2 linked regions of the Homo sapiens genome follow. The protein of the gene in region 1 purifies or fractionates together with the protein of each later gene. This does not show direct contact. Each region holds a gene or a part of one and is shown on either strand. Other genes may lie near its edges.

The links. Proteins that work in one complex are often made in the same cells at the same time.
Region 2: the proteins of WNK1 (region 1) and SGK1 purify together in Homo sapiens (affinity purification with western blotting, with the first as the bait; 2 studies listed by BioGRID). This does not show direct contact.

Annotation. Positions count from the first base shown.
Region 1 is NC_000012.12:901,813-910,118, forward strand, and holds part of WNK1 (serine/threonine-protein kinase WNK1), read left to right. Parts: intron 1-6,034; coding exon 6,035-6,222; intron 6,223-6,662; coding exon 6,663-6,980; 3' UTR 6,981-8,306. UniProt on the Homo sapiens protein: Serine/threonine-protein kinase component of the WNK1-SPAK/OSR1 kinase cascade, which acts as a key regulator of blood pressure and regulatory volume increase by promoting ion influx.
Region 2 is NC_000006.12:134,258,765-134,267,070, reverse strand, and holds part of SGK1 (serine/threonine-protein kinase Sgk1), read left to right. Parts: intron 1-4,922; coding exon 4,923-5,138; intron 5,139-8,306. UniProt on the Homo sapiens protein: Serine/threonine-protein kinase which is involved in the regulation of a wide variety of ion channels, membrane transporters, cellular enzymes, transcription factors, neuronal excitability, cell growth, proliferation, survival, migration and apoptosis.

The sequences.
Region 1 (8,306 bases):
ATGATAAAAAATGTCAAAATAACAAGTTATCTACAAATTTCAATGTAACTTTCTGGTAGAAGTGCTTCTTCATGGATCTGTGACAGAGAGTGGATATGGTATCTAGGCAATAGATTGCTGGGTCATTTAGAATAATGAAGACTGAACTCCACAGTCGTAGTCAGTGCTGTCTGTCTGCCCTAGCATTAGAAATGAGAGAAATCAGCCAGACACGGTGGCGTACACCTGTAATCCCAGCACTTTGGGAGGCCGAGGCGGGAAGATTGCTTGAGGCCAGGAGCTCGAGACCAACCCTGGGCAACATGGTGATACCCCATCTCTAAAAAAAAAAAAAAAGTTAGCCTGGCATGGTGGTGTGCACCTATAGTCCCAGCTGCCCAGGAGGCTGAGGCGGGAGGATTACCACCTTAAGACCAGGAGGTTGAGACTGCAGTGAGCCATGATTGCACCACTGCACCCCAGCCTGAGCGACAGAGTGAGACTCTATCTCAAAAAAAAGAAACGAAATGAAGAAAGCATTTTGACCAATGATGCTCTTAGATCCTGGCAGCAGGTAAAAATTATGTACCATTTTTTTCCATTCTTTGTCAGAGTAGATTGAAATCTTATTTTTCTTCTCTATTAAGCCTAAGCAGCTACCAGTTGAAAAGATGCTAGGATCTCTTCATTGGATCATTCCACCACTACTGTCCTCTAACCCCATAAAATCAAAAGCGGTTTTTAGTTTGGTTATTCTGATAAAGCACTTAGTCTAATAAAGATCAAAGCCCAGCATCTGCAAGTGAAAATTCTCCTTCTAACATGATTTCTGGGATTTTGCAGCTTTCTACTTAAAAACAAGGCACAATAGCAAGTCACCCCATCTTCCCCATATGTGAAATGGAGATGATGCCAGTGTCCTAGGGCCATCGTACAAATCAAGCTAAGATCATGTACAGAGAAACAGGTAGCGCTTGAAAAGCACTCATGGTTTCTCTCTGATGAGTCAGTGCCTACCTGGCACAGAACAGGTAGTCAATAACTGTTCGTGGAAGAACAGTTTAAAACAAACAAAAACATAGTTCAAGTAGAAAAACCTTTGTTATAATTTGAATAAAGATCTTCTCTGTTAAGGCCTCAAACTTCTGATGTGATTATTGAAGTGCTTTTTACATGCATGTGCTCAGGCCATCACTGTTTCTGAGTATGGGTCAGAGGCCCTTGGGCCTCTTCACGGTGGGAAGAATTTACAACCTCCCTTTGTTCTCTGTAGTGACTAGATTTAAAGCGAAGCATATGACACGTTTAACTGCCATTTCCCTCACACATACCCCTGTTATTTTTACCTGCATTAGAAATGGATTGGCTCCTTCCAGCACCCCTATTATTTGTACCTGTATTAGTAATGAGTTAGCTGTACTTGAGAGGCAGTCTTTACTGACTTTCCCCACATGCACTAGTCCCAGGCTGTTTAACAAAGAAGCGGGTGGAAGGCATTACCCAATTCGATCGTTTTCCAGGCTTGTGTGATTTTTTTTTTGAGGACTCAGATCAATAATTTTTCTGGTCAGACTTTCCTGGACTGTGCATATTAGCACTTTGACAGTTGAATAAGCATTTAATTTGCATGTCCACCTAGAAAGTTGCAAGGGGGGTGTTTTTGAAGTAGAATGTGACATGTCAGGCCTATGGTCTACAGCCTGAAGTGTCTGAGAGGGAAGAAAGAGAACCAAAGCTTCTGTTTCTGAAATATAATGTGACAAATACCACTTTAATTAAATTCCATAAATTCTCATCCCACTTTTAAAGGTAGGTGGTATTACCCCTGTTGTTCAAATGAAAGTGGTCAGAAATATTGAATCTTGTCACTTCCCTTTGGGTGCAAAATGAAAGGCCCTACATCCTTAGAAGTCACATCAGGATACATCATGTAAGCCTGGTAAACAAATCCCAAGAGACATACTTGAAATATGGAAAGGAAACAGGTACTTGAAAGAGTAGGGCACCTTACTAGCTTGAGATGTATTATTCTATGCTCTCAAAATAGATAATGGTTTGGAAGCACGGCTTGGCTTACTGCTATATTTATGTTCAGAGGTTGCTTGTTTTCCACGTACTTTTAAAAACTATTCTGGAAGGGAAGGGGTTAGTATATATATGTGGGATGTGGAAATATAATAGCCAATTTAAATGAACTTAAAGCTGTAACAGTGATACTATCAGTCTACTGTGGTGGGGTTGCTAATGCATTTAACTGAGTGCTTTTTAACAGCCCAGCTGGAGAAACAGGAAGTGGGACAGGATCAGTGGAAACGCTGCTTGGGTATTTGAAATTCAAGCAGTGAGACCTGAGAGACTGGAGTTCCTCGCCAATTCCAGAACCTCAGTGCAGGGCATTACTCTTTTAGATACAAAGATTGGGTGTAGAAACTCCACATCTGTCAGCCACGTAACACAGCCCATCAGATAATCATGTTAAGGCTAACAGCCAGTTCGAAACATTCTGTAGAACTATATCTGTTCAAGGGCTACCAGGTCCTACCTATCTGTCTCACCTCCTGCTTTCTCTTGCTGGGCGTTTGTGTGCTGTTTGGAGATTCTAAATATTTTACACTGATGTTTCTTTATCTTTAACACATTGCTTCTCTCTTTGTGCTTCAGGGAAGATGGTGAAAAAAGTCTGTCCTTGCAACCAGCTCTGTAGTAATTATCTTTTCTGTTATTTTTGGTCCTTGATTGCAAAGCCTGTTAACCATGAGTTCTTTCAACTCTGCAGTCTCATAGCTCCCTGATTCCTAACTTCCATCTATCTCTGTATCCTATTCTAATAAATATTTAACATGCTTAATTGAGAAATCATCTCCTAGTCGGTGCCCTCAGTGATAACCCCATGTGAGCCTAGCTTGTGACAGACATGGATTGGTAATGGCCATGGGTATATATAGGGAGGTCAGGGATGCCTAGTTCCTATGGGAGAGCGATCCTTTGGTCAGCAAATATGTGCCGGGCAGTGTTATTACCCCAACTGGAAACTCAGCAGTGACGAAAGCATACAAAAGTCCATGCCCTCCCACGTTCACACTGAAGTGGGAGATGTGTGCTAGATTGACGAGGAGAAAAACACCACTTTCTAGAGTTTGTCTTCTTAGACTGTGGCTTCTCATACTTTAATGAGAAGGCCACTTACAGTGTTGTAGGTAGGGTCAACAGGGAAATTCTGTACTTGGGATGTTGGGCTGTAAGTTATGGTTCATAATAGGTTATTGTTAGTAGGATCTGGTGATGTGGGAATAGGGGAAATGTATTATAATGGCAGGAGGAAATTTAAAAATGAATCTTGGGGGTAAGTCTATACTACTTATTAGGGCTTTTCAGAAGAACTAAAAAAGGTTAAGAAGTTAGCATATTCTCTCAAAGGCCTTTCTACATCTTTTATAGTCAAGTCTCCTTTTCTTAGGAGTTAATTTCTGGTCAGAAAATGATAGGTTTGTTTCATTCTTTAATGGGAGGCCTGTATACAGAAGCCAGAACGTGAAGGTTTAGCTGTATGGTTGACTCTTCCTCATGGTTTCTCTTTCCTCATAGAGAATCCTGTATTAGGTAATGTAGGGTAAAATGAAAAGTGAAATTTCGTTCTAAAGGGGCCTCGCAGCATCAGGGGCGACAGACTAGAGAGGTGTGTCTCCCAGCATGAGCTCTGTGGATAAGCAATGGTCACGCCTCCTGAGCTTCTTGTATTTAGCTTTTGACAGCTCTGCTCCCCTGTGATTATTTCTGTTTTTTGTTTTGATTGTCTCTCACATCAAGCTCACCAAGCAATAATTGTTCAAACAGGATGACAATCCCCATGCATGTGATATGCTTGCTTTCTAGATTGAGTCACTCACTGTCATGACTGCCCATCCTCATTGCCTGTGCTTCCCACTTCACCACTCTCTCACATTGGCTGTTCATGGAAGGCTGTTTTCTGTGCTCTCATGCTTCTCCCCTCGCGTTTCCTGTACTGTAGGGAGCTTACTCTTCCCTTCACACTGTATGTGCAATAGCAATCCCCTTGTGGCTCCAGCAGACACCAAGAAATGAGCTGACACTCACACTGCAGTAGTTCCGTGTCTTGCCATAGCGGTAAGAAGCATGTGACCTTCCTCACTGCAGCTTCACCTCAGAATTAGCTGTTACTGCAGCACAGACCTGCTTGTGTGTGCCATTCCCCAGGTGGTAGGATATAAGCTTGACTTGAGACCAGCGATGGTCAGTAACAGGCTTTGAAGTGGCAGGATTGCGTTAGGTGTGCTGCTGTGATCTGGTGCTGCTTTGACCTTGAAAGCAGGATAACGCATGCACTTACTTACCCCCGCATTACTTGGGTACCTTAAGGACTAGTGGTTCACAACTTACTTTAGGAGCTTTTATTTATTCTGTAACACGTGAGATCTGGTAAGACAGTGGGGGGTAAGGAAAACAGACAAGACCATGACTCTTCTTTCCCTCTTCCCCAAAACGTGCCTCTTGGAATAATCTTCAGTGTGCCCTCCAGCAGAGCCGAAATCAGGCAGGCATAGACTCCCTCCTCTCTCATCAAACCGCAGAAATAGAGTTCCTTCATCATAACCGCAAAGCTTCCTCCTCCCCTTTGCACCCTGCCTCAGCTGCATTTTCTTGTCGCTTCTACATGGGAGTGCTTGCTGTTCTGGGAAGAGTGGGGAGAAGCGGTGGGAATCCTTGAGCCAATTGAAACTGAGGTCATCTTCAGGAAAACCATGTCTTCCTGAAGTTGAAAGATTCAGGCACACCATACAGTCCTTTCCTCATGAATAATCTTGTTCTTTACTCATGGGAAATTGGGAGAGGTTAACCCCTCCCAAGTTTATGTTTGCAAATTCATGTTTATGGGTCCAGGTGAAAAACTTTTCTGAACACAGCATGCTACTTCTCTTATTACCTCTCTCTATTTAAAGAATGGCTAGGCTGAGCATGGTGGCTCACACCTGTAATCCCAGCACTTTGGGAGGCTGACATGGCAGGATTGCCTGAGCCCAGCAGTTCATGACTAAGCAACATATGGAGATTCTGTCTATATAAAAAAGTAAAAAATTAACTGGGTGTGGAAGTGCATACGTCTAGTCCCAAGCTACTTGGGAGGCTGAGGCAGGAGGAGTTGGAGGCTGCAGTGAGACGTGATTGTGCCGCTGTATCCAGCCTGGGTGACAGAAAAAGAAGAGACCCTTCCTTTAAAAAAAAAAAAAAGCCGGGCGTGGTGGCTCACGTCTGTAATCCCAGCACTTTGGGAGGCCAAGGCGGGCGGATCACCTGAGGTCAGGAGTTCTTGAGACCAGCCTGGCCAACACGGCAAAACCCTGTCTCTACTAAAATACAAAAATTAACTGGGCATGGTGGTGCACACCTACAATCCCAGCTACTCTGGAGGCTGAGACAGGAGAATCGCTTGAACCCAGGAGGCAGGGGTTGCAGTTAGGTAGGATCGTACCACTGCACTCCAGCCTGAGTAATAGAGTGAGACTCCATCTCAAAAAAAAAAAAAAAGGCTAAAGAATGTGGCAGTGTCCAATGGTTTGGAAACCCACCTTCTCCTTATCCTTAGCCAAGCATCTTTTCCTACTCCTACTTTAACCGTGCCCAATGCACAAGAAAACCTCTTTTTCCCTGCATTCTGCAAAATTCCAGAGCAACTAGCCTTGCTGATTGTATCACACCTCCATCAGCAACGTGATGCTGGGAATAGCGTACTGGCGAGCAGTTCCAATACTCTTAGGTGCTTTGTGAATGGACTGAAAGAGGCCCCTGCCTGTGTACCTACCGTCATCCTGAGTTGTTCAGCCTTAGCAGCAGCTACTGAAGAGAAACTGTTTTCATCACCCTATTATACCAAAACAAATGGCTAAACAAAACCTTGGAATCTTCCCTCTTGCATGGCTTCCCAGTTCATCCTCTTCTCATTCTGTGGCTTGCCATTCATCATCCCGTGAAGTTTTCCCTCTTCCTGAAATTGTAACCTAGGCTTCTTTTAATGCTCGTATTCTGTTGCTTATAATAGGAACCAGCAGCACAAACACTGTTGGGGCAACAGTGAACAGCCAAGCCGCCCAAGCTCAGCCTCCTGCCATGACGTCCAGCAGGAAGGGCACATTCACAGATGACTTGCACAAGTTGGTAGACAATTGGGCCCGAGATGCCATGAATCTCTCAGGCAGGAGAGGAAGCAAAGGGCACATGAATTACGAGGTAAGTCTCTCTTTTGCCGCAGAGAATCCGTAACACACATCTGAGTCAAGGTGATAGAAACAACTAAGCTGCTGCTTAACGTCTTACGCCACGACCTTCTTCAATTTTAATACTTTAGAAAAACAAGGCAAAAATCCCCCAGGTACCCTTTTATTTTTCCTTCCCTGAATTCCTAACCTCTTGTTGGTCAGCTCAACTTTTTCTTCTTCGTTTTTCCTTCGTCATCCTCAACTACACACACACAGACACACACGCACATGACATCCCTCCCTCTCATGAGGATTATTTTCACCCTTACTTGGTAAATATAAAGAGCCAATAAATACTACAGAAGACTGTTCTGCTGTATCTTACAGGATTATACTAGAAGTATATGTTAGCGCCACACATTTTATACCATGGCCCACACCAGACTTGACACGTGGTGGTTTTGTTTTCAGGGCCCTGGAATGGCAAGGAAGTTCTCTGCACCTGGGCAACTGTGCATCTCCATGACCTCGAACCTGGGTGGCTCTGCCCCCATCTCTGCAGCATCAGCTACCTCTCTAGGTCACTTCACCAAGTCTATGTGCCCCCCACAGCAGTATGGCTTTCCAGCTACCCCATTTGGCGCTCAATGGAGTGGGACGGGTGGCCCAGCACCACAGCCACTTGGCCAGTTCCAACCTGTGGGAACTGCCTCCTTGCAGAATTTCAACATCAGCAATTTGCAGAAATCCATCAGCAACCCCCCAGGCTCCAACCTGCGGACCACTTAGACCTAGAGACATTAACTGAATAGATCTGGGGGCAGGAGATGGAATGCTGAGGGGGTGGGTGGGGGTGGGAAGTAGCCTATATACTAACTACTAGTGCTGCATTTAACTGGTTATTTCTTGCCAGAGGGGAATGTTTTTAATACTGCATTGAGCCCTCAGAATGGAGAGTCTCCCCCGCTCCAGTTATTGGAATGGGAGAGGAAGGAAAGAACAGCTTTTTTGTCAAGGGGCAGCTTCAGACCATGCTTTCCTGTTTATCTATACTCAGTAATGAGGATGAGGGCTAGGAAAGTCTTGTTCATAAGGAAGCTGGAGAACTCAATGTAAAATCAAACCCATCTGTAATTTCGAGTGGGTGGAGCTCTTGCTTTTGGTACATGCCCTGAATCCCTCACTCCCTCAAGAATCCGAACCACAGGACAAAAACCACCTACTGGGCTCTCTCCTACCCTGCCCTCCTCCCTTTTTTTTACCCCTCTCTTTTTTATTTTTTCTTTGCTCTTTAGAACCCAGTGAAAAATACCAGGGTACTGGGGTGCAACTCTTTCTTATGATAGGTCATTAGTGCTTTAAGCAAAAGATATTAGCAGCTTTGACTGCAGCATTAGCAATTAGGAAAAAAAAAAAATTAAGTTCCCTGCGGACATGTAACTTTGCCATCAGTTTTGATGTGGAAACACTGTGATATATAAAATGTTGTTGGACAACAGTAGTTTTAAGAGTAAAATATGAAACGTTTAAAAAGTTCCAAAAAAAGCTAGCTCTGTCCTTTACTTATTGAGACACTTTAACTTTTTCCTTTGTATTTCCATTGTATTAGATAAATAAATGTGAATGTAAAATTGTATAAATTACTGTACTTGAATACTTCTGTTTCCCAGTGTTGCTTGCTGGACATTTTAGTGCCTTGGACTTCTATTGCTTCTGCCATTAGCATCAACTTACCAGACCCCAGATCAATAAAGGGCATGTGGAAGGAAATCGTAGGTCCATGTGACCCCAGCAGTCCAGCAGTGGTTATGCCAAAGGGAAATTGAAAAAGTATTTTTTTAAGTCATTCAACAACTTTGTCTAGAGCAGGTGTAAGATGAGTAGGGTGGGAAGTTAGGTTGGCATCAGTGGTTAAAAACAGAAAGTTCTGTTTCGGGAATAGTGAGGAGGGGGTGTTGTAACAAAATTGGACAACTTAAAAGAATGGTGTGTGCTGGGTGAAAGACAAAGACTAAAGAATGAGGAAACAAACGTGATGCCTGGCCAGTGACTGTCATATAAACCTTTCTTATTTGAGCTAGGCTTGAACAGACGTGACCTAGAAGAAACTGAACA
Region 2 (8,306 bases), on another chromosome or scaffold:
ACTTACAAATATATTTGAATAGATTTATCATCTGTTTAAATCCTGTTCACAGTAACCCTAAAGTTAAATCTACTTGGCAAAAGAGACATTGAAAGTAAGCCAGAGTAAAAAGATTGATTTTAAACTACAACGTTGGAGACAAAGCAAGAACAGTTACCAGACTTCAAGCCCAAAACTATCTGAATAAGAATAATAAAAAACATTATCCATCTCTAATGAAATTGAACACTTTTTAGACTGATCAAAAACACATTTAGTACTAACATTAAGAAGATACATTCTATTGGAGTCTCAAACTTTTAAAGTTTCATTTAGACTTCCATTAATGAATCAGCGAAACATTCTTAATATACCTACTAACATGCTTAAGGGGCCCTATAGTGACAGAAATATTTAAGGAAACCCAAAATTTTAACTTTAGGATAGTAAACTCAAAAAGATATTTTATTTTTTTTGAGACAGAGTCTCCTTCTTTCACCCAGGCTGGAATGCAGTGCCATGATCTCAGGCTCACTGCAACCTCTGCCTCCGAGGTTCAAGCCGTTCTTCTGCTTCAGCCTCTGGAGCAGCTGGGGTTACGGGTGTGCACCACCACGCCCAGCTAATTTTTGTATTTTTAGGAGAGTCAGGGTTTCACCATGTTGGTCAGGCTGGTCTTGAACTCCTGAGATCAGGTGATCCACACGCCTCAGCCTCCCAAACCCAAAGTGCTGGGATTACAGGTGTGAGCCACCACAACCGGCCTCACAAAGATATTTTAAATGGCTATTGAAAAGAGTACATATAGGCCAGGTGCAGTTGCTCACGCCTGTATTACCAGCCCTTTGGGAGGCTGAGGTGGGTGGATCACCCGAGATCAGGAGTTCAAGACCGGCCTGGCCAACATAGCAAAACCCCGTCTCTACTAAAAATACAAAAATTAGCTGGGCGTGGGGGCACGGTGCCTGTAATTCCAGCCACTCAGGAGGCTGAGGGAGGAGAATCACTTGAACCAGGGAGGAGGAGGCTGCAGTGAGCTGAGATCGCGCCACTGCACTCCAGCCTGGGTGACAATCAGAGACTCCATCTTAATAAATATAAATAAATGAATAAAGAAATAAATAAATAAAGCAATTAAAAGACACTTGTGGCTGGATGTGGTAGCTCACGCCTGTAATCCCAGCATTTTGGGAGGCTGAGCTGGGAGGGGAACACTTGAGCCCAGGAGTTCTAACCAGCTTGGCTTGACCAACATGGTGAGACTCTATTTTTTAAAGAAATGTATATATATATATACATTTATGATTCTGATAAAATATTATTCTTTTAAAAGTTAAAGTACGAAGAGTTGTAAAAACAGATAAAACACCCATGATACTAACAATAAACACAGCAGTTTCTATTTTGCCTCTTAACTCTCCTACTTTATGTCTATAGTGTTTCTGTGTATATATATATGTATATATATATATGTATATATATAAAATATATATGTATATGTATATATGTATATGTATAAATATATATGTATATATATAAAATATATATGTGTATATAAAATATATATGTATATATAAAATATATATGTGTATATATATATTTTTTTTGTTTGTTTGTTTGTTTGTTTTTTGAGACAGAGTTTTCACTCTTGTTGCCCAGGCTGGAGTGCAATGGCATGATCTTGGTTCACCACAACCTCCACCTCCAGGGGTCAAGCGATTCTCCTGCCTCAGCCTCCTGAGTAGCTGGGATTACAGGTGCCCAACACTACACCCAGCTAATTTTTGTGTTTTTTGTAGAGATGGGGTTTTGTCATGTTGACCAGGCTGGTCTTGAACTCCTGGGCTCAGGTGATCTGCCTGCCTCGACCTCCCAAAGTGCTGGGATTACAGGCGTGAGCCACTGCACCCGGCCTATAGTTAGTACATATGTTTTTACATTTGTGATTATAGCAATTAAACAGTTTTGTATTTGGCTTTTCTCATATAATTATGTTCTAAATATTTTTCATATTTTCACAGTCTTCATAATACTTAATTTTAGTGATAGCAAAATATTCTATCAAGTAATATAATAAATTGCTTAAACATTATTGCTATTGCAATTTTAGTTTATCCTCAGTGTTTTTTAAAAAGTTAATTGCAGGCTGGGCATGGTGGCTCACACTTGTAATCCCAACACTTTGGGAAGCCAAAGTGGGAGGATCGCCTAAGGCCAGGAGTTTAAGACCAGTCTGGGCAATATAGCAAGACCCTGTCTCTACAAAACAATTTAAAAATAATTAGCCAGTCATGGTGGTGCACGCCTGTAGTCCCAGCTACTTGGGAGGGCTGAGGTGGGAGGATCGCTTGAGCCTAGGAGGTTAAGGCTGCAGTGAGCTGTCATCGTGCCAATGCACTCCAATCTGGGGAACAAAACAAGACCCTTTAACAACAACAACAACAAAAATAATAATAATAATAATTGTAGCATCACTAACTAAAATTCAGTACTGTGATTTTACTTCTTTGTCCTTTTGCTATAGGCTAATTTCACTAATTGGTTGAATATAAAAGAATCCTCAGGAGTTTTGAAGAGCATGAAAGTGAAATAGTAAATCAAAATAAATTTCAAGCACCAGTGACCATAAGTCTTAACAACACTTCAGTGCTTCTTAGAAAATTGCATGCTCATGGCCAGGCGCAGTGGCTCAAGCCTGTAATACCAGCACTATGGGAGGCCAAGGTGGGCGGATCATGAGGTCAGGAGATCGAGACCATCCTGGCTAACACGATGAAACCCGGTCTCTACTAAAAATACAAAAAATTAGCCAGGCATGGTGGCAGGTGCCTGTAGTCCCAGCTACTCGGGAGGCTGAGGCAGGAGAATGGCGTGAACCCAGGAGGCAGAGCTTGCAGTGAGCTGAGATCGCGCCACTGTACTCCAGCCAGGGGCAACAGAGCGAGACTCTGTCTCAAAAAAAAAAAAAAAGAAAGAAAAGAAAATTGCATGTTTATAAACTCTGGATTCAAGGTGCCTGGATCCCGCCTTTACTCCATAACAACACTGTGCCCTGGGGAAATTTGCTTCACATCTCTATGCGTTTGTTTTTCCATCTGTATAATGGGATTGAAAATAGTACCTTTCTTATAAAACTTTTCTGAGGACTAATTAATTAATTTTTTATTCTTCATTTACTTATTTATTTTCTTTTGTAGAGATGGGGTTTTGCTATGTTGGCTAGGCTGGTCCCAAAATCCTGGCCTCAAGTGACCTGCCTGCCTTAGCCTCCCAAAGTTTAAAGTGCTGGGATTACAGGTGTGAGCCACCTCACCCTGCCTGTTCTGAGGATTAAAAACTATACACATCAAACACTTTAAAAAGTGCCTTGATTTTTGAAATGCTGTATAAATACCATGCCTGTTAATATTAGAATAGCTTTATACTTCTTTCTGTATCTTATAGGGATTTTACAAGCAAGCAAGACAAGTGGTGAGTTTTAGAACTTTAAAAACAAACTTGAGCTAATTTCTTAGCCAGAAGCAATTTCTTTTATAATCAAAGTTGTGCAGTAGTATATATGGGCCGGATTCAGTGGCTCATGCCTGTAATCCCAACACTTTGGGAGGCGGGAGGATCACTTGAGCCCAGGAGTTTGATACCAGCCTGCGCAACTTAGTGAGACCTCATCTCTACAAAAAAAAAAAAAAATTAGTAGTGTGATGGTGCGAGCCTGTGGTCTCAGCTACTCCAGAGGCTGAGGTGAGAGGATTGCTTGAGCCCAGCAGTTCAAGACTGCAGTGAGCCATGATTAGGCCACTGCATTCCATCCTGGGTGACAGAGGAAGATCCTGTCTCAATAACAATAATAATAGTGAATATGTATTTGCTTAGCAATGGATTAGATTGTAAACTATGAGATTAGTATTTTCCCTTGTAAGAATAACTAGTAATTCACCTTAGAAATGTGTGAACTAAATTTCTGTCATCATAATCATAATAATAAGGGTCAAAGTAAAATAGTCACTATCTATTGGGCACCAAACATGTGCCAGGCAAAGTACTTGAACATTGTAAAACATGGTAGCATTTTCACAGCTTGGGAGGAAATATTATTACCTGAATCTTACAAATGAGGAGACAGGCTGGGCACAGTGACTTATACCTGTGATCCCAACACTTTAAGAGGCAAAAGGATCTTTTTCTTTAAAAAAAAAAAAAAGTTATTTTTTTCGTAGAGACAAAGTTTCGCTATTTTGCCCAGGCTGGTCTCAAACTCCTGGGCTAAAGCAGTCCTCCTGCCTTGGCCTCCCAAAGTGCTATTTAGATATAAACCATCTCGCCTGGCCAGGGTAATTGTTTTTGTTTGTTTTTGGGTTTTGAGGGTTTGTTGTTGTTGTGTTGTTGTTGTGGTTGGAGACAGTCTTGCTCTGTCACCCAGGCTGGAGTGCAGCGGGGCTATCTCAGCTCACTGCAACCTCCGCTTCCCAGGTTCAAGCGATTCTCCCAAGCAGCTGAGATTATAGGCGTGTACCACCAGGCCTGGCTAATTTTGGTATTTTTAGTAGAGATGGGGTTTCATCATGTTGGCAGGCTGGTCCAGGAGGATCTTTTAACACCAAGACCAGCCTGGGCAACAGAGTGAAACCCCCCTATCTCTAAAAAGAAAAAAATTCTAACCCCACTGGAAGCAGGAGGAAAAAGAAAAGAAAAAAATAATGTGAAAAAAAAATGCGGAGACAGACTCAGCAAGATGAAATGACCAGCCATGTAATGCATACTCTAGGAAAGAGACTGAACAGCATTGACCAATTCGAATTGTGTTGAGTTTGAAAGATAGACAGGTTGTGAGACCGAGTTCTCCTTTCATGAGCTCCCATCCCACCAGATTTCCCACCAAATCCCCAATAAACATCAAAGGGAGTCAAACACATTTGTTTTTTCTTTCCTTTTGCACATTGCAGGTACGAAGGTGGATCAAGAGCCCAATGGTCAGTGTGGACAAGCATCAGAGTCCCAGCCTGAAGTACACCGGCTCCTCCATGGTGCACATCCCTCCAGGGGAGCCAGACTTCGAGTCTTCCTTGTGTCAAACATGCCTGGGTGAACATGCTTTCCAAAGAGGGGTTCTCCCTCAGGAGAACGAGTCATGTTCATGGGAAACTCAATCTGGGTGTGAAGTAAGTTCATGTTCGCTCTGGATCTATTCTCCTGGAAAAATTCTGGGCCTTTGTTTTTCTTGTATTTCTGCCAGAGTATACCCAAAAAATAATTTTTTAATGCATATTTATAAAGCTTCTGAGGAAGACCTAGAATTGTGGTCTTTGTTAGCTCATTATGTTATTTTTTTAAAGTAGGCTTTATATTTTAGAGCAGCTTTAAGTTCACAGCAACATTGAGCAGAAGGTACAGAGATTACCCATATACGCTTGTCCCCATGCACGTATAACCTACTTTGCCATCAACATTCCCTAGCAGAGTTTTATGTTAGAGTTCACTCTTGGTGTTATACATTCTATGGGTTTGGACTAATGTATAATAACATGCATCCACCATTACAGTATCATACAGTTAAGTTTCACTGCCCTAAAAATCCTCTGCCCTCCACTATTCATCCCCTCCTTACCCTGACCCCTAGCAACCACTGATCTTTTTACTGTCTCCATAGATTTGCCTTTTCCAGAATGTCATCTAGCTGAATCATGCAGTATGTTGTATTAATGTTTTACGTGGGTCCAAGACTGATACAGCAATGTGTTGGTAAACTGGCAATTCCTCAGAAGTGGTTTGATCACACAGGAGATCAAGTCTTAGATGATACAACGATTGTAATAGTCATCTACATGTTCGTAGCTTCCATTGAAATATTTAGTTCAACACGATTTGATCCATTTACAGAGCACTATGTATACTTTTCATTATTTTTCTCAAGCTCATATATACTCACATTTTTACTAAGACTTATTTTCCCTGCTACTCCAAGAGTTGTTTTTTAAAAATTTTGTTAATCCAAGAAAACCAGATAACTGATTCATCTTGCAGTTTCTAAGATTTCAAAAATTTAAGATTATATTTTTAACTTATAACTTAATTAGGCCCATATTTATTTTGATTTTTAAAACCATTATATAAAATGCTTATATTATTTTTACCATCATACTGACATAAAAATACAATATTTAGAAGACAGAACATGTTATTACAAAGTACAGTTAATTGTAAGTGATCTTCCAAGTCAGTGCATCATAGAATGATAAACGTTAATAACCGCTCACCTTTTTTATTTTTAGCAAGGTAACCATTTTCCAGAGATAAAATAATCATTTAGCTGCTAAAAGACTGAAGACATTAAATCTGAGTTCCTTTTCACTCTGAGTTATCACGCAATGTCGCTGAATCTGTTTCATAATTTGTCTACTTTCTTTCTTTCTTTTTTTTTTTTTTTTGAGTTTCACTCTTGTTGCCCAGACTGGAGTGCAATGGCACGATCTCGGCTCACTGCAACCTCCGCTTCCTGAGTTCAAGTAATTCTTCTGCCTCAGTCTCCCGAGTAGCTGGGATTACAGGCACCCAACACCACGCCTGGCTAATTTTTGTATTTTTAATAGAAACAGGGTTTCTCTATGTTGGTCAGGCTGGTGTCAAACTCCCAACCTCAGGTAATCCACCTGCGTCGGCTTTCCAAATTGCTGGGATTACAGGCATGAGCCACTACGCCGGCCCTTTTTTTGGGGGGGGTGGGGGTCGGGGACAGGGAGACAGGGGGACAGAGTCTTGCTCTGTAACCCTGACTTGAGTGCAGTAGTGCAATCATAACTCACTGTTACCTCAAACTCCTAGGTTCAAGTGATCCTCCCACCTCAACCCTCCCAAGTAAATAAGACCACAGGCATACGCCAACAAACCTGGCTAATTAAAAAAAAAAAATTTTTTTTGTAGAAACAGGGTGTTGTCATACTGACCAGGCTGGTCTTGAACTCCTGGCTTCAAGTGATCCTCCCAAAATGCTGGGATTATAGGTATGAGGCACAATGCCCAGCCTACTTGTCTACTTTCTACGGTTATTGGAAAAATCAAATGAGATTGATATGAAATGTTTCATAATCTATAGAATGCCATGCAAATATAAATCATTATTGCTCATGTTTGCTGATTTACATATTAGCTAAGCCTGTGACTCTGTAACACTATATTAGACTTCCATAACTGGGTTAGCACTTTGCTGATCCATGAACATTTGTCATGGTGCATTTGCTTTTTAGCCAGATGTTGGTTCAACTCTAGGTTTGTCATGAAAAACAATAAAGACGCTAAATGCAAGAGCATCTATTTATCGCTCCTGATGCAAGGGATAGAGTCAACTTTTTATCTAAACGGCCAGATAGTAAATATTTTAGCCTTTGCCTAAAATACAGTCTCTAACTTCTATTTAGCTCTGCCCTTCTAGGGAAAGCAGCCATAGATAATATGTAAATGAATGGACACAGCTCTCCCAGGTTGGAGTGCAGTGACGAGATCTCAGCTCACTGCAACCTCCACCTCCCAGGTTCAAGCAATTCTCCTGCCTCAGCCTCCTGAGTAGCCGGGATTACAGGCATCTGACACCACACCCGGGTAATTTTTTTTTTTTTTTTTAGTAGAGATGGGGTTTCACCATGTTGGCCAGGCTGGTCTTGAACTCCGGACCTCAAGTGATCTGCCTGCCTCAGCCTCCCAAAATGCTGGTATTACAGGCCTGAGCCACTGCGCCCAGCCTGAGTTTGCCAATTTCTTAGACTCTAAAGAACTATTTATGACTTAGAAGCAGAGAGAGGGTTCTACATATCCTATACAGAGCACACATGCCTAGTGCTAAATGTTTACTTGAGGGCCTACTCTATGTCCCATTTGATAGGAGCTGGGTTTAAATCAATGCAACAGTGAAATTCCACACAAAAGGAAACAATAAACAAAGCTGAAAGGAATTTAAAGCAACATTGTGATTTACCCTTTTCCTTTATCTTAGATAGCAGGTAAATCATTCTCCAATTTGCAATCGATTACCTGGTTCCCAGACTTTGCTGGCTTTTTCCTAAGGTTATCACAAATCAAAATGACACATACTTTATTTTATTACTTTTTTTTTGAGACAAGGTTTTGCTCTACTGCCCAGGCTAGAGTGTAGTGGTGCAATCATGGCTCACTGCAGCCTCGACCTCCAGGGCTCAAGCAGTGGTCCCACCTCAGCCTCCCAAGTAGCTGGGACTACACGCCCCATGCACCACTATGCCCAGCTAATTTTATTTTATTTTATTTTATTTTTTGTGGAGACAGGTTGGTATCAAACTTCTGGGTTCAAGAGATCTGCC